2 separate regions of the Homo sapiens genome follow, and region 1 is linked to region 2. The links come from fine-mapping of genetic effects on gene expression. A gene starts in region 2. The other region holds a variant in brackets. All regions are shown on one strand. Distances are from middle to middle. Region 1 overlaps RCL1 (RNA terminal phosphate cyclase like 1). Region 2 holds the start of RCL1 (RNA terminal phosphate cyclase like 1).

Region 1 (8,120 bases), 47 kb before region 2:
TGGCCCACAGTCTACATCATGTCCATGTCTTTATCTACGTGTAAGGCTTCTACTCACCATTAGTAAGTATGGACTTGACCACACTCTAGGGTCAGCTGAGTCAGTGGTATAACAAAAAGCCACACTATAAGCTGGTGGCAGGATGGCTGTCAGGCCTGCTCTGCTTCATGCCAGGACACTTTCTGATAAAGCGAGAGGCAAAGCAGAGAAGGGACTATCGAGATGAAGCCATTTAGACAGCTTCTGCTGCTATCTGTCCTCCCCCATCCCTCGGAAATCCCCTTTCTCCAGAAAATAGCTGACACATAATTCCAGACCTGTGGCCAACAAGGGAGAGTAAAGGAAAGAACAGCATCAGGAGCTACCATTTCTGTAGGACTTACCATGTGACAAGCAAGGTATTAATGGCTTATATGTGTGATCTTTACAATAACCCCAAAACATAGGCATCATCACCCTCAATGCATAAATGAGGAAAATACTGTTGTTACTAGAATATAAACCAAAGGTTTAGGAACATCATTGACTTTTCCAAGCCAGAAAGTCCAGCTTTGCCCACAAATCCTTTCCCAACCCCAGCGTTATGACGCCACCAGCTTTGTTGCTTTGGACTATGAGCCTCCACTGTATTTCTAAAACTACCTTCATCTTTCCATTGGGCCTTATAAAGGTCAAAGGTTGTATAAAACACTCACCCCCCTCCTTTACTCTCTTTTCCTCTTTTTGCTGAAATTAAAAGAAACCACAGGTGAAACAGCTGTGAAAAAGGATCAGCTGTGGCATCACTTAAGAAGAAGTTGACTTCTTAACCTACAACAGTTAACCCCAGACTCTAATATTCTTATTTTTAGGAGACACAACCTGCAAAGCCTCAGATGTGAAGTGAAATGATGCCCATTCACACTGAAATGATTCAGTAAAAAACAAAAACAAACAAAACCCACAAACAAGTGAAGCAAATTTGGCAAAATATTTATCGTTAACTATAGGCAGCAGGAGTATATCTCCGTGTTCACTGTACTATTCTTTGATCTTTTCTGTATGTTTAACACTTTCCTATTTTAAGAAAGTGGCTTTAATTGCTTCTCTAACTTCCTAGTTGCTAAATACACAAGCAAAGCCTAAAACAGGTATCTTCATTACATAGAGCATCATTTTTTAAGAACTTATTTTCCTTACTTAGAATTTTTTTCTAATTTTTAAAATTTTTATTTTTTAGCAAAGCAAAGGCTTTCACTAAACCAAATTCACGTCTGCAATAACAACTTTCTCTGGATGTAAATATGTTGTTTCCACTGATGAAGAGAGATGCTGACTTACACTTAGATAACAAAAGATTTTAACCCTATACTGTTATTTACTCAGGGTGGAAGAACCTGTCCACTTTAATTTTTTTGTTGGAACAGAGTGCAGATGGAATTTAAAGCCTAAAGCATTGTGTATTAATAGATAAAGGTTTTAATTCCCCAAGGCTAGGAACCAGACCCTTAGCTTCCAGCTCTAGCCACTGGGATGCTTTCCATGTGACAGGCACTCAAGAAATGCCTGTTGGTGACAACGGCAATAAGGCAGAAAGAAATTAATTCTGAAATTGTTCTTCCTCTGGCTGCGCAACCTCAGAGCTGGCAGTTTTAACTTCAACTAGAACAGGCATGTGAAAAAGCTGCAGAAACAGACTTCAAAAACACAGATACTTACTTCCCAGAGTTGACTCCTTTCATGTGATCTGTGTAAATATAGATATCAGGTATGAACTTGTTGAGGATGCTCCTTGCAGAATCCACAATCCGGTTCGCCATCTGAGGTGACACACGTACAGAGTACCTGCAGCCTGGAGTTAAGGATGTCATTCTGCTTGAATTCCAGGACAGAGAAAAATCAGTTATAAAGCTGGCAAGTATTTGTGGAACTGTAGTAACAAACTGGGACTTCCAAATCTATTGTTTTCCAACTGAATTTACTGAATTAGTACCATAATTAAATTTTTTTCATTATTATAAAAGGTCATGGCAAAAACACCCAAACAATAGAGACAGTGGAAAGTATAAAGCTGGAGGTCCTCAACCCCACCCCCTGACTTCCTACCCACACGCTTCCCCTAGAAATGGTTCAAGTCAATTTTGGAAGGTGTAAAGACACCTGCCTCTCTGCGGGTCATGATCCAGGCTCCCTCTGAAGCACAACACCTAAGAACACTTTCTATTCTCTGTCCATTCCCACTGCTGTAGCCAATGAGTCTCTCTCTTAAGAACCTAAGCCCAGAACAGACACCACACAGGACCTGGGCGATCCCAATCTGACTCCTGGTATGCTGATGGGAGAAGCAGAAAAAGTTCAGTGAAAGAACATGGTTGCTGCTATTTATAAATATATAAAAAGGTTTTTCTCATTTACAGGGCCTATTTTCTACTATTTAAGAATTAATTACTCCACTTGTGGATAACACAGCCTCCTCACACCTGCTACCTTATGGTTAAAATATTGATAATTAGCACTCCTACAATAGGGCACCCCAGAAAAGAAAGGAGGAAGATATTAGTAACTCAAGTGAAAAGATTGGTGCTTGAGGAAATGGAAATTATTGCCTAAAACTAGACTTTATAACAGAAGCTGGCATTCCCCAACCACACATGTCAAAGAAAAAGTAAGTATGTATTGAGCACTTCAATGTGCAATGTATGGTCAAGAGATGGCTATATATTTGGAACTAAAAAAATGGAGAAATAACATGTGACCTTCCCACTACCCTGATACAAACCCCACGTGACAAGTCCAACAGGTAGAACGAGGTATATAATCTGCCCAATCCAGCCCAATGTTCAAGAACTGCTGACAATAACATATTTAATTTTCATCTGAACTGCAGAAACAAAGTGCTCAGAGACGATACATGACCTGATCTGGTATCTAGCTCCCTTTTTTGACCCATCCTGAACTTCATACTAAAAGACCAATCTTCCTCATGCTGGTGACAGTCTCTCGGTGGCTCCTGGTCCTCCCATATCTTGTTGTTAGAGCCCCCAGCCTGCTCAGTTGTGTCCATCTTCAGCTCTGCACCATCAACTCCTTCCACCCATCCAAACTGACCAAATTCCTCAACCTGAGCTGCTTTGCCCCATTCTCCCAGCCCGAGGTCCCAATCTCTCTCCTGAAACCCTCCAGCCGGCACCCAAGTGTTAGCTCCACTTGAACTTACCATACATCTCTCTTCACATATGCACATTTTGTTCTTGCTCTTCAATGAGACCACACACTCTATAAGGGCAAGGGCTTTACCTCTGTAATCCCTCCCAACTCTCCAATACACCACTTTTGTACTCAGAAATGCTCAATAAATATTTAACTTGACTCAAAGGACAAACCTGAAATGAGGAAAGAGCAAAGAGGGATTTTTCAATACACACACAGCCCAGTTACATCACCATCTCTTCAGTCCAGAATGTACTTTTGACCACAGACAGCTTAGACAAACAGTCCTGAATCTCATACCCTTTGGACCAAGCAGGTGCTGTCCTTCTGAGGTCTGAGGCTGCCCACTGTCCCC[A/G]GGAAAGCACAAGAGATGTCACCATCCTAGCACATAATCCCACAGAGCTCACGGCTCCCAAAGTTCTTTCACATCTATTATCACCTTACTTTATGCTCACAGTAACCCTGTGTTGAGGGCCATGGCTCCGAGTTCTAGGACTTACATTAAAGACAACTAAGACAAAAAAACTAAGACACTTGCTCAAAATTAAACAGATCTGACTCCCAAAAAGCATCTTCCTCCTCTCACCCATCCCAATACAAAAACACGAAGGTTAACAAACAGTACGAATTCAGGGCCTACAGAATCCTATACTAGAACTCAGGCAATGAAATGAAGAAGGCAAAGGAACTTTAAAGCCAGTTGCTTAGAACCATCTGGCTTGGCATGGATGTCCTACTAAGGAATGGCTAACAGCCCCCAAGTTCTAGAATCAGATTATCTCCGTTCAAGTCCAAGCTCCAGCAAGCTGCATCACTCCAGGTTAATTGTGGTAACTTCTCTGTGCTGTCATTTCCTAATCAGTAAAAGAAGGATAATCATAACACTTTCCTCACAGAGTTTGGAGGCACAAATGAAATAAAATGCATGTAAAGCTCTTAATGCCTAGTGTGTAGTAGGAGCCCAACAAATGTCAGCTATTGCTTTTCTTTATTACTTATCCAAGATTCAAATCCCAAGCAGAGGTTCTTATTCTTTCAAGAATCAGAGAACTCTCTGAGAATCTGATGAAAGCTATGGACCCTCTCCTGAGAAACATATATACTCACAATCTTGCAGAAAATTTTTCAGGTTTATGAACCTCCTAAAGCCCATTTATGAAAACCATATTAAGAACCAATACCAATGTACAAGTCCATAGCTACAGTCCATATGGGACTCCCACTCTTCCCCTTCCCCAATGTTCCATGTCAGAGAAAGCTAAGAGGGGTGTGTGTGTGTATGTTACAGTAGGTGGAGAGAGAGCTTGATTCTCAAAGTACCTTTCCTACAGTCAAGGAAAAGAAACTAGATTATCCCACGAATTCCAACTTATCCCCCTTTACTGCCAGCTTTTTCACTTAATTCTCATGTACCAAATCATGAGCTCCTAGGACAGCACTGCAAAACTAAAACAGAATGTTCCTTTCTCTTACGCCCCACATAAGGCAGGGGTGAGAAAGAGTGGGTGGCATTAAGTAAAAGGTAACTACTGTGTAGTCACAGCTGCTGGCAGGAACCAACACCAGCTCCCTCTGGGCCCTGGCTGGTAGGTCATCTTGTAGAACGCAAGAGGGAAAAGATGCACTTTGGAAGTAATTCAGTTAAAACCACAAATGCACACAAGAGAGTGGGCCTCTTTCTCCCAGTCTGAGCCCTCCCATGGGAAATACAACCTCCAAGCTTAGTCCAGTAGTCAACCAGCCTTGCAAGGAAAAAAACCACAAAACCAACTCAAGCTTTTTCCAAAGGCAGCTCTTTTTTCCCAGGCTCCAAAACTGGAGAAGAGGGCGATCTCCATTCAAACCAACATTCCTTTGAGGTGTTTGTGAAATGGGCAGCTCTGCAGAGCAGTGGCTGAAATGTTTGGTTAACAGACAGGGATCTGAGAAAGGGCACTGTGTCAACTCTCCTGGGGAGCCAGGAGGAAGCCTCAACCAGTCAGAGATATATTGGGGATGATTTCCATGTCCTATCCCCTGCCTCCAGGGAGGGAGGAACTTGGGACCTCACAAGTCTCTTCCTGGCTCAGATTCTACACAGGGAAGGTTCCAAGAACATTAGAGGGAGAAGCCAGGGAGGAACATAGTTACACCCAAGGTGCCCGGCACTACAGCTCTTTTAACTTTTATGTTCTCCCCTGGAAAGCCCTTCCCCATTTCCCAGCATCATCATCAAAGGACACGACCATCTGCACACCCAGAGAGAACAAGGGGGACCCCACTGTGATGAAACCCATGTTGTTATGACAAGATTGTGTCAAAACAGAGCACACTGCCAGAAATCACATTTCCAGACTACAGAGACTGGATTCCAAACAAAGTTCACGGCCGCCAATACAGCATTAAGGAAACACATCTCAAATAAGGAGGAAAAAAAACAACTACCCCCCAGACAAACCCAAAATAGTACTGAAAGTGTATTCCTGTACACTTATTGGAATGTATTGGAAAGTGTATTCCTATACACTTATTACACTTTTTTTCACCATTGCCAAAAATGTTGTGGTTAAAGCCATTAACCGCAGTGTATTTGGCAACAGTGAAAAGCAAAAAACAACTCAATGGCCATCAACAGGATTTGATTTTGGGTTCTATATATGGTGGAATACAATGCATCTGTTAATAAGAATGAATTCAAGTAGAAAAGGCACATTTGGTTTCAAAAACACACACCTAGTTACATTGCATTTCCATTTCTTTGTAACCTAATTAACCTTATTCCAGCTCCTCGGATTTGGATACTAGAGTTGAATATCACCTTAGAAAGTCACCTGGGCAATGTAACTATGCATCAACCTGGGGGCTCCTAGGAAAGGAACCATTTCTCCTTTTGCCTGTTCTCTCCTGGTACACACAAGGCTGGGCGCTTACATGGGCTGGGGGACAGCCATGCAGAGAACAGACCATAACCCAGGAAGGCTTTGTTATTATGTATTCCTGTGGTTTTGATGATCCTTAAAAAGAACTTCAGGCAGCAACCCAAGTTTGAGCTTCTATCTTAACCAGCACTCTCTCTGCACATGGCTCTGCAGCCCACCCTACTCCCTGCCCTTCACCACTTACTGTTCAAGCTATTCGAGGCCTCTGAAAAGACAGTCCACGCTACACCTTTCTTCCTCCAAGTAATACCATTGCCAAACCTCCTGAGAACACAAAACCCGACCTTAAGCACCCACCCCCGCCCTGACAAGCAGGCTTTCTGGTCTGCCCTCCTTGTCACACTCCCGCCAGGAAAGTCATCCCACAGCCTGTCTTGCTCTACGGCCTCCAACACCTGCTCCCACCCAGATCCTGTCAGCACCTAGAATTTTACCACTTTTAATATCTGAAATCCCAAAACAAAACTCCCTAAACACAATCTCTTGTCCTACACAGTACATGTATCTATTTCCACTAGATCTGATCTTTAAGCCTGTTAAAGTTTCTCATCCCTTGACCTGCTTTGTCCAGGCTGGTGAGCCCCTGTGACAATCCTCAGTGAGGAATGTACTTCCCAATGCTCCAGCACCCACCCTCCAACTGTCCTCCTGTAGGACCCACCCACCTTGCCAACCTGCATCCAACCTTGGATGAAATTGGTCCTCCCACGTTCTCTACTCCTCCCTCTAGGCTGCCAACTGCCACTGGATATAGCCACATGGCCATGCAGCTGGCACTGTGTTAACATTACACCTTCAGCAAGGACCTTACTGCTGGAACACAGCCTTTTTCTTATCTTCAGTTATGATGCTCCCCTGTGAAGGCACATCTTTACCATCCTTGTCACACTCTCTTATCCTACCCCGCCCATCCCCTTACCCTCAATCCCATCCTAACTCGGTAACAACTGAAAACTCATCCCAACCCCCTTCCACTCACCTCCACACAGCTCTACCTGGAGCCACCCTTACCGTATGCCTGTGGCCTTGAATCCATCCCCTCTCAAGTAAGAATAAAAAGAATAGTAGTAACCATTTACCCAATGCTACTTACACACCAGTGCCTCCTACTGTGCAACTACGATCTCATTTTACCTTCATGACAGTCTCGCACAGCAGTTATAACAGGACTAAAGATATACGGGCAACCAAGGCTTACGGCCAAATGCTTCCATTGGTAAGTGGCGCAGCCGGCGTCGGCACCCACGTCTTTCTGACTCCAGCACCTGGGCTTTTAATCAGCTCATTACTTTGCTTCATCTACATTAACAACCTACAAAAACACTCAAATCCTTACCAATCTTTTTGTAAAAGGGAGGGAGTCTCCCTGACTCTCGCTTCATCAAGTTACTCCCTCATCCTTCCTTCTCCTTCTCTTTCCTGTCAAGGTTCTGTAAAGAGTGGTCCCCACAAGCCGCTGTTTCCCTCCCCTTCACTCCACAACCCAGAATTAGTCCCTTGGGATAGGGATCCAGCACTCTTCCCCAGGGCATCAGTGACAGCCTGCTGCTGAGTCCCTCAGCTTTTCCCCCACCCCAATGCTAACTCCTCAGGGCCTTTTAAAGTGCTGACCTGAGCTTCCAGGAAGCTATGTTTTGTTTATTCTCTTCCCCACTCTTACTTCCCTCCTTACTTAACTCTTGCTTTCAAGTTTTGGTGGCCTCACAGGGTTCCACCCTCCTTTCTTTGCGTTCTGCATAGTATCTGATTCCAGCCACCTTCAGCTCTTCACTGGCCCCTGCCTGTCTTCATGCCCCATTCTACCATCAAATGCCATAGACCAACCTGAAATCTGGCCACACTTCATTACTTGCCACTCCCTAGAACCACTGTGCACTGCCACCTCTGCTCAGGCCCACTTTTCTGCCTGAAGCCCTCCTCCTTTCTTGCTCTACTTTGCAATCCTCTGTTCTTCAAGGCTCCTTTCTATAGGCAAAAGTAAAAATTAAATGCCTGTACTTTAGAGTCACACAG
Region 2 (8,120 bases):
AACAATGATTTCCGCAGCCACCATCTCAATCCTATCTGTCCAGATCAGGTCCAGAAAACCTGCCTTCCTTCGTAACTTTCAGGGAAGTGTCTGCTCTGAACTCCACTGAGCCCCTGTACAATACTCAATCCTTCCTACTTCAAGTTACTCAAACTTAGTAACATCCTACTTACATGACAAGCTCCATGAGAACAGGGGCAACCAGCTTCTCACATATATTACACTCACCCCCATACAAAGCCTTGCACATACTGTGGCTCAATAAACACTTTCTAAATAAATGTTCCTGAGGCCGAAAGCCTCCCATACTATCCCTACCCTCCAAAGCCCACACCATGAGGGATGTTTTAAGCAAGCACCTTGAAGAGATGTGATTCTTGCATTAGAACTGAAGATTTTATTGGATATGCTCTGAGTTTTTTCCAACTCTGAGAATCTGAGTTAGGAAAAGTCAGAAAGGGACAGATGACGGGCAACATAGGCTTCCGGCTACATCTTCAATCAAGCTACCAAGGACTCCCTTGATTATGACCAGAAATCATGTGTCAGGGACTACATCTATTTATGCGTGCACGTATATGTATATACACTTACATGTATGTGTATACATATACACATATACATGTATATCTGCAAATGCATATCTATCTCTCTGTTCCCTCTGTAAGAAATTAAGCAGACAGGCTGGGCGCAGCGGCTCACACCTGTAATCCCAGCACTCTGGGAGGCCAAGGCAGGCGGATCACCTGAGGTCAGCAGTTTCATACAGCCTGGCCAACATGGTGAAACCCCATCTCTACTAAAAATACTCTACTAAAAATTAGCTGGGCATGGTGGCAGGCACCTGTAATCCCAGCTACGAGGGAGGCTGAGGCAGGAGAATTGCAGGAACCCAGGAGGCGGAGGTTGCAGTGAGCCGAGATCGCACCACGGCACTCCAGCCTGGGAGACAGAGTAAGACTCTGTCTCAAAAAAAAAGAAAGAAATTAAGCAGACAAACATCTACAAGGTTTCTGAGGCCCTGAAGCCAGCGCAAGGATGTACAAATAACTAGGAGTCTCTTTCTTCCCCTGGTATATGAACGGGGTAAGGCAAATAATGCTCTACAGTAATGTTCCCCATAAAATACCAGCACACCTGCCAAGCAGTTCTACCTCCCTCAGGTATCAGCGTCTGACACCCTTTCAAGAAAGTGCCAAGTGGCCAAGCCCTGTTCTTGGAAGAAACGGGAGCTCATATGTGTGAGATGCTTTGAAGAGATGCTCACATACAGTGGAGGGGGAGAAGGAGAAGCATACTTTGGAACATTAAATATTAAATTGGAGGCCACCTGTCAATAGAAAAACTCTAAATAGAACTAGATTCATTTTAGAGAACCCAGGTTTCCAGGCTATACTTCCATTTCTCTGGAAAAAAAAAAAAAAGTTATGCCTACTTTTATACAAAGTAGAAGTCCATCTTCTTACCATATCCAGCTAGTGGCAAGTTCTCTGAGCTAACCTGAGGGTAAAGTGGATGGAGAGCTGGCTGAGAATGCCACACAGCAATCAAGCAAACACTTTGCCCAAGGGTCAAACTAAGTGGAACACTTGTTGACGGAAAAGTCGTGGCATAAACCATTTGTGGTCTCTCCCTAACTTTCTCAGTGTTTTTGAGCAGTAGAGAGAGGACAGGAACCACCAACACAAGTTTTTCCTACCATCACTAGGTTTCTCACCACTGTACCTGGGATATTCTGCTTCTTTCCTTCCTAACCTATCTCCGTCAATAGCATGGCATCTTCTGCCCTTTATGTGCAGCCAATCACCACCCAAGAGAGGCAGAGATCTAACTATCCAAAAAATGCATTCAGACAGATAAAACAAGAGCCAGTGCAAAATGAAACACATCAGCGCCGCTCAGGAAGCTTCCAGGACCAACCACAAACACTCTTTTTCAATTTACAGACAGGTTTTTTCCTTTTTCACCTGACTACTGACTCGCCCAACTTGGGATAACCACCAGTCAGAAGCTTTTAAATGCATGTATCTCATGCCAGGGGGCCAGGTGTAAACCAAGGCCAGTTGAAAACCGGCGCCATTTAATGAGATGTGGGTTTAAATGGGCCTATTTCTTTTTAACCTACCATTGCAGAGCAAGAAGTGAGCTTGGAAGCCTGCAGTTTAGCGATTGTCACCGACCCCTTTTCTAAAGTCAAGGCAATTAGGCCCATGACTGTTAAAAGTCTATCTCAAAGCTCCTGTCCTGCGCACATCAATCACAGTCACGGCTGAAAACAAACACAGAATTTTAAAAATTTCTTTATCCACACCCAAGGACAAGTGTGAGGGCAGCCGAGAAATCATGGCGACAGGAACAGCCGGTGTCCAAGGGGGCAGCTGCTTCTGAGAACTGCTTTGAGACAGGGCAGAGAACCAACCCAAGGTACTTTTCTCTCCCAATGTCTCTCCCCCGGCTCATTCACCATATTTCGGTCCAACAAACTGTTTTTCTCCTTTGAGAGGTTTATGGCGAGGGCAAGAGGGGCCGAAGGGACGCGAAGGGGCGACGCCAGGGATTTGTTGCTACACGTAAAGCTGGAAAACGTGCAGCTGTTTACTACCAGCGCCCCGGAGACGCCGAGCGCAGCTTGCAGCTGAGCGCTCCCCTCGGGCCCCGACCCCGCCTCCCCCACTGTGCCTGCCCCTCCGGCTTTGGAGGCGACGCGCCACCTGCCCTCCCCGACGCGCTCGCCGGACGCCGAGCCGCCCAACCAACACCGCGCGGGCCCCCACGGCATCAGCTCGGTCTCCCCTCAGCCCCCGCGCCCACGCCGCGCGCCGCCCACACCAAGTTACCTCGGAGGCCCGGGTTGTCGTCTCTGGCCCGAATCTTTCGGATTTTGACGGGGCGCCCGCTCAGGGTAGACAGGACCAGACGTTGGCGCAAGAAGTTGCACCCTGCGTAGCTGAGGGAGTGCGCCTGAGTCGCCATGTGCGCGCTCTCCGAAGAGACGTGAGCAGCCCGAGAGCGGCGACTTCGGACAGACGCGGGACTCGTGACTCCGATGGTGGTGGTGGCGGCGACACCGACGGCGGCGGCTCGGGCTGCCTCCAGCAGCCCAGACGCGTCCACGTGGTTTGGAACAGGAAGACGGAGAGACTAGACACCGGGTCAGAGGGGAGCGGGGCGGAGCCAGTGGCCACCTCCCCGCCTCCCCGCCCGACCGGGGCGGCCCCCGCTTCGGGCCACGCCGCTATTGGCCCGCGCCGGATCAGGGCGGTGCCCGCGCCGCGCCTCCATTGGCTTCCGCTGAAGCTGGGCGGTGCCCAAGCCGCGCTGCCATTGGTCCGTAGTGGAGCTGGGCGGTGCCCGGGCCCTGGCAACAGCGCGCGGCTGGAGGGAACGCGGGAGGATGGCCAGGGAACCCCGGCGCGGGAGTTGCCAGTCGGGGCAGTCTCCTCTGTGTACCTCCTGGCGTGGTAGCAAGGGGAGATGGCGGACTGAGATTGATGCCTACGACGTGCCGGATTCTTAGCATTACTACTTACGGCAACTACTGGGGTGAAGATGCTATTATCTACCCCTCCTCTTTCTTACTAAGAGAGACAACAAGGGTTGGTGCACTCACCCTATCGCAGGGATGCCGCTCAGCGCACTGCCGGCGCAGTCCCGCAGCTCCATGCTGTAACCCTGCAAGGTAGAGCCATCCTGTCCTACTCATGGATAAAGGCTCGAGGAATATTGCAAAGCTGACAGTGGCAGCCTATACTGAGACCCGAATCCTCCCACAGCAGGCCGTTGCTTATTTTATTGAGACACCTCTTTGCCCCTTTCTCACGGGTCCCTTCGTTTATCGTCATTGCGTTTCATGGCAATTCAGGCCCTCCTACCTCGCATGCTTCAAGATAGATAGTTGTAATAACTTCACACACACACACGCGCGCAATGCTTTTTCCCTCTTTCCCGTCCTCCTCCAATCCTGCACAAGAAAATCTTCCCAAACGTTGGATTATTTCACTTCTCTACTCAAAAACCTTCCAAAATGTACAGTTAACTAACAAATGACTACACAAGTAGAAGTCCGATATCATAGTAATGTGGGTTTGTAGCCATTCCTGGACAACACTCACCAAACCATGAGTCCCAGAATGCACGGGGGTTCGCGGGGGGAAGGGGGGCGGGGTATGATAGTGTCTGAAAGCGGTGGGAGTTTAAGATTAAGGGATGTAGCTAGCCTTATGTAGACAACAGTGTGTTATAAAGTGGAGTGGAGTGGCATGCTCATGACTCACTGCAGCCTCAACTTCCCGAGTTCTAGTAATCCTCCAACCTCAGCCTCCCCATTAGCTGGAACTACAGGTGTGCACCACCATGCTCAGCTAATTTTTGTATTTTGTATAGACATGGGTTTTTGCCATGTTACCCAGGCTGGTCTCAAACTTCTAACCTCAAGCGATTGGCCCACCTTGGCCTCACAAGTGTGAGCCACCACTCCCAGCCTTTAATCCATTTTTCTTTGATTTTTGTAAATGGCAAGAGATAGAGATCTAGTTTCACTCTTTTGCATATGGATATCCAATTTTCTCAGCATCATTTATTGAAGAGACTGTCCTTTCCCCAGAGTATGTTCTTGGCAACTTTGTCGAAAATGAGTTTACCGTAGCTGTGTGGATTTATCTCTGCGTTCTCCGCTCTGTTCTACTGATCTATGTGTCTGTTTTTATGCCAGTACCATGCCATTTTGTTTACTCTAGCTCTGTAGTATAATTTGAAGTCAGGTAATGTGATTCCTCCAGTTTTGTTCTTTTTGCTTAGGACAGGTTTGGCTATTCTGGGTCTTTTGTGGTTCCATATAATTTTTTTAATTTTTAATTTTTGTAGGTAGATGGTACATGTATATATGAGGTACGGGAGAAGTTTTGATACAGGCATGCAATGTGTGATAATCACATCCTGAAGGATAGGGTACTCATCCCCTCATGCATTTTATTCTTTGTGTTATTATACAAACAAAACAATTATACTGTTTTAGTTATTTTTAAATGAAAATTAAATTATTGTTGACTACAGACACCTTGTTGTGCTATCAAATAGTAGATCTTATTCTTTCTAATTTTTGTACACATTTATTATCCCCACCTGCCCCCCAACATCCCCACCCCCTCTATGTTTTCCAGTCTCTAGTAACCATCCTTCTACTCTCTATTTCCATGAGTTAAATTGTTTTGATTGTTTGATCCCACAAATAGGTGAGAACATGTGATGTTTTTCTTTCTGTGCCTGGCTTATTTCACTTAACATAATGATCTCCAGTTTCATCCATGTTGTTGCAAATGACAGGATTTCATTCTTTTTTATGGCTGAATAATACTATATTGTGTATATGTATCACATTTTCTTTATCCATTCATCTGTTGATGGACACTTTGACTGTTTTCAAATTTTAGCTATTGTGAAGAGTGCTGCAACAAACATGGGAGTGCAGATATTTCTTTGATATGCTGATTTCCTTTCTTTTGGGTATACACGCAGCAGTGGGATTGCTGAATCATATGGTAGCTCTATTTTTAGTTTTTTGAGGCACCTCCAAACTGTTCTCCATAGTGGTTGCACGAATTTACATTCCCACCAACAGTGTACAAGGGTTCCATTTTCTCCACATCCTCACCAGTATTTGTTATCGCCTGTCTTTTGAATATAAGCCATCTTAACTGGGATGAGATGATATCTCAAAATGAGTAGTTTGCAGATATGTTTTCTCACTCTTTGGGTTGTCTCTTCAGTTTGTTGATTGTTTCCTTTGCTGTGCAGAAGCTTTTTAACTTGATATGATCCCATTTTTGCTTTGGTTGCGTATGCTTGTGGGTTATTAATCAAGAAATTTTTGCCTAACCAATGTCCTAGAGATTTTCCCCAATATTTTCTGTAGCCATTTCATAGTTTGAGGTCTTAGATATAAGTCTTTAATCCATTTTGATTTGGTTTTTGTACACGGCAAGAGAAAGCAGTCTAGTTTTACTCTTCTGCATATGGATATCCAGGTCTCCCAGCACCATTTATTGAAGAGATTGTTTTTTCCCCAGTGTATGTTATTGGCACCTTTATTGAAAATGAGTTCACTGTAGGGTTATAGATTTGTTTTTGGGTTCTCTATTCTGTTCCACTGGTCCATTTGTCTGTTTTTATGCGAGTACCATGCCATTTTGGTTACTATAGTATTTTTTTTTAATTTTTCTTTTTTTTTTTTTTTTTTTTTGAGACAGAGTCTCACTCTGTCACCCAGGCTGGAGTGCAGTGGCATGATCTCAGCTCACTGCAACCTCCACCTCCTACGTTCAAGCGATTCTCATGTTTCAGCCTTCTGAGTAGCTGAGATTACAGGCATGCACCAACACATCCAGCTAATTGTAGTATAATTTGAAATCAGGTAATGTGATTCCTCCAGTTTTGTTCTTTTTCTTAGGATAGCTTTGGCTATTCTGGGTCTTTTGTGGTTTTATATAAATTTTAGGATTTTTTTTCTATATCTGTGAAGAATATTATTGGTATTTTAATAGAGACTGCTTTGGGTAGTATGGATATTTTACCAATGTTGATTCTTCCAACCTGTCAACATAAAATACCTTACTATTTTTTGTGGCCTCTTCAAAATCTTACATCAATATTTTATAGTTATCATTGTAGAGATCTTTCACTTCTTAAGTTCATTTCTAGGTATTTTATTTTCTTTTTAGCTATTGTAAATGGGATCACTTTCTTGATTTCTTTTTTGGATTGTTCATTGTTGGCATAGAGAAATACTACTGATTTTTGTGTGTTAATTTTGTATCCTGCAAATTTACTGAATTTGTTTATTAGTTCTAATATTTATTTGGTGGACTTTGGGTTTTTCTAAATATAAAATTATATCATCTAAAAACAAGGAAAATTTTTTCTTCTTTCTTTCCCCTCCCTCCCTCCCGTCCTTCCTTCCTTCCTTCCTTTTCTTTCTTTTCTTTCTTTCTTTTTTCTTTCCCCCCGCCTTTTTTTTTTTTTTTTTTTTTGAGACAGGATCTCACTCGGTCACCCAGGCTGGAGTGCAGTGGCATGATCATGGCTCACTGAAGCCTCAACGCCCCAGGCCCAAGTGATCCTCCCACTTCAGCCTCCCTGGTAGCTGGGACTACAGGCATGTACAGGCATGCTCCATCACACTCAGCTAATTTTTTAATTTTTTTGTAGAGATGATATTTCACTGTGTTGCCCATGCTTGTCTCAAAGCAATCTGCCTGCCTCGGCCTCCCAAAGTTCCGAGATTACAGGCATGAGCCACCCACACCCAAGGGTAATTAAATTTCTTCATTTCCTATTTGAATCCCCTTTATTTCTTTCGCTTGTCCAATTGCTGTAGCTGCAAACTTCCAGTACTATGTTGAATAAGAGTGGTGAAAGTGGGAATCCTTGTCATGTTCTGATCAAAGAAGAAAGGTGGCCAGTGTGGTGGCTCACACTTGTAATCCTAGCACTTTGGGAGGCTAAGGCGGGCAGATCACCTAAGGCTAGGAGTTTGAGACCAGCTTGGCCAACACGGTGAAACTCCATTTGGGTGTGGTAGCATGCACCTGTAATCCCAGCTACTGGTGAGGCTGAGACATGAGAATTGTTTGCATCTGGGAGGCAGAGGTTGCAGCGAGCTGAGATCGCACCACTGTACTCCAGGCTAGGTGACAGAGCAAGACTGTGTCTCAAAAAAAAAAAAAAAGATGAAAGGCTTTCAGTTTTTCCCCATTCAGTATGATATTAGCTGTGGGTATATCATATGTGGCTTTTATTATATTGAGGGATGTCTTTCTATACTCAGTATTGTTAGGGCTTTTATGAGGAAGCGATACTGGATTTTATCAAGTGCTTTTTCAGCATCAATTGAAATGATCATTTGATCATTTTTGTCCTTCATTCTCTTGCTATGATGTATTACATTACTTAATTTGCATATGTTGAACCACCCTTGCATCCCTGGGATGAATCACACTTGGTCATGATGAATGATCTTTTTAATGTGTTGTTGAATTCAGTTTCATTGAGAATTTTTGGATCAGTATTCATCAGAAACATTGGCTTGAAGTTTGCTTTATTTGATGTGTCTTTGTCTGTTTTTG

What was found.
Region 1: its variant is fine-mapped to the expression of RCL1 in Th1/17 cells (Schmiedel 2018, PIP 0.95).

What each region holds. Positions count from the first base shown.
Region 1 is chr9:4,834,936-4,843,055 of GRCh38, reverse strand. It overlaps RCL1 (RNA terminal phosphate cyclase like 1), which reads right to left. Exons shown (of 9, transcript NM_005772.5): 6 at 1,699-1,824. Among named protein-coding and RNA genes, the nearest start is that of MIR101-2, 11 kb to the left of the region's middle. RefSeq lists a silencer at 453-747. The variant A/G (reference allele first, on the strand shown) is at 3,545.
Region 2 is chr9:4,787,945-4,796,064 of GRCh38, reverse strand. RCL1 (RNA terminal phosphate cyclase like 1) reads right to left here and starts at 3,121. Exons shown (of 9, transcript NM_005772.5): 1 at 2,838-3,121. The coding sequence starts at 2,973. RefSeq lists enhancers at 2,371-2,870, 2,945-2,994, 3,815-3,864 and a silencer at 3,075-3,434.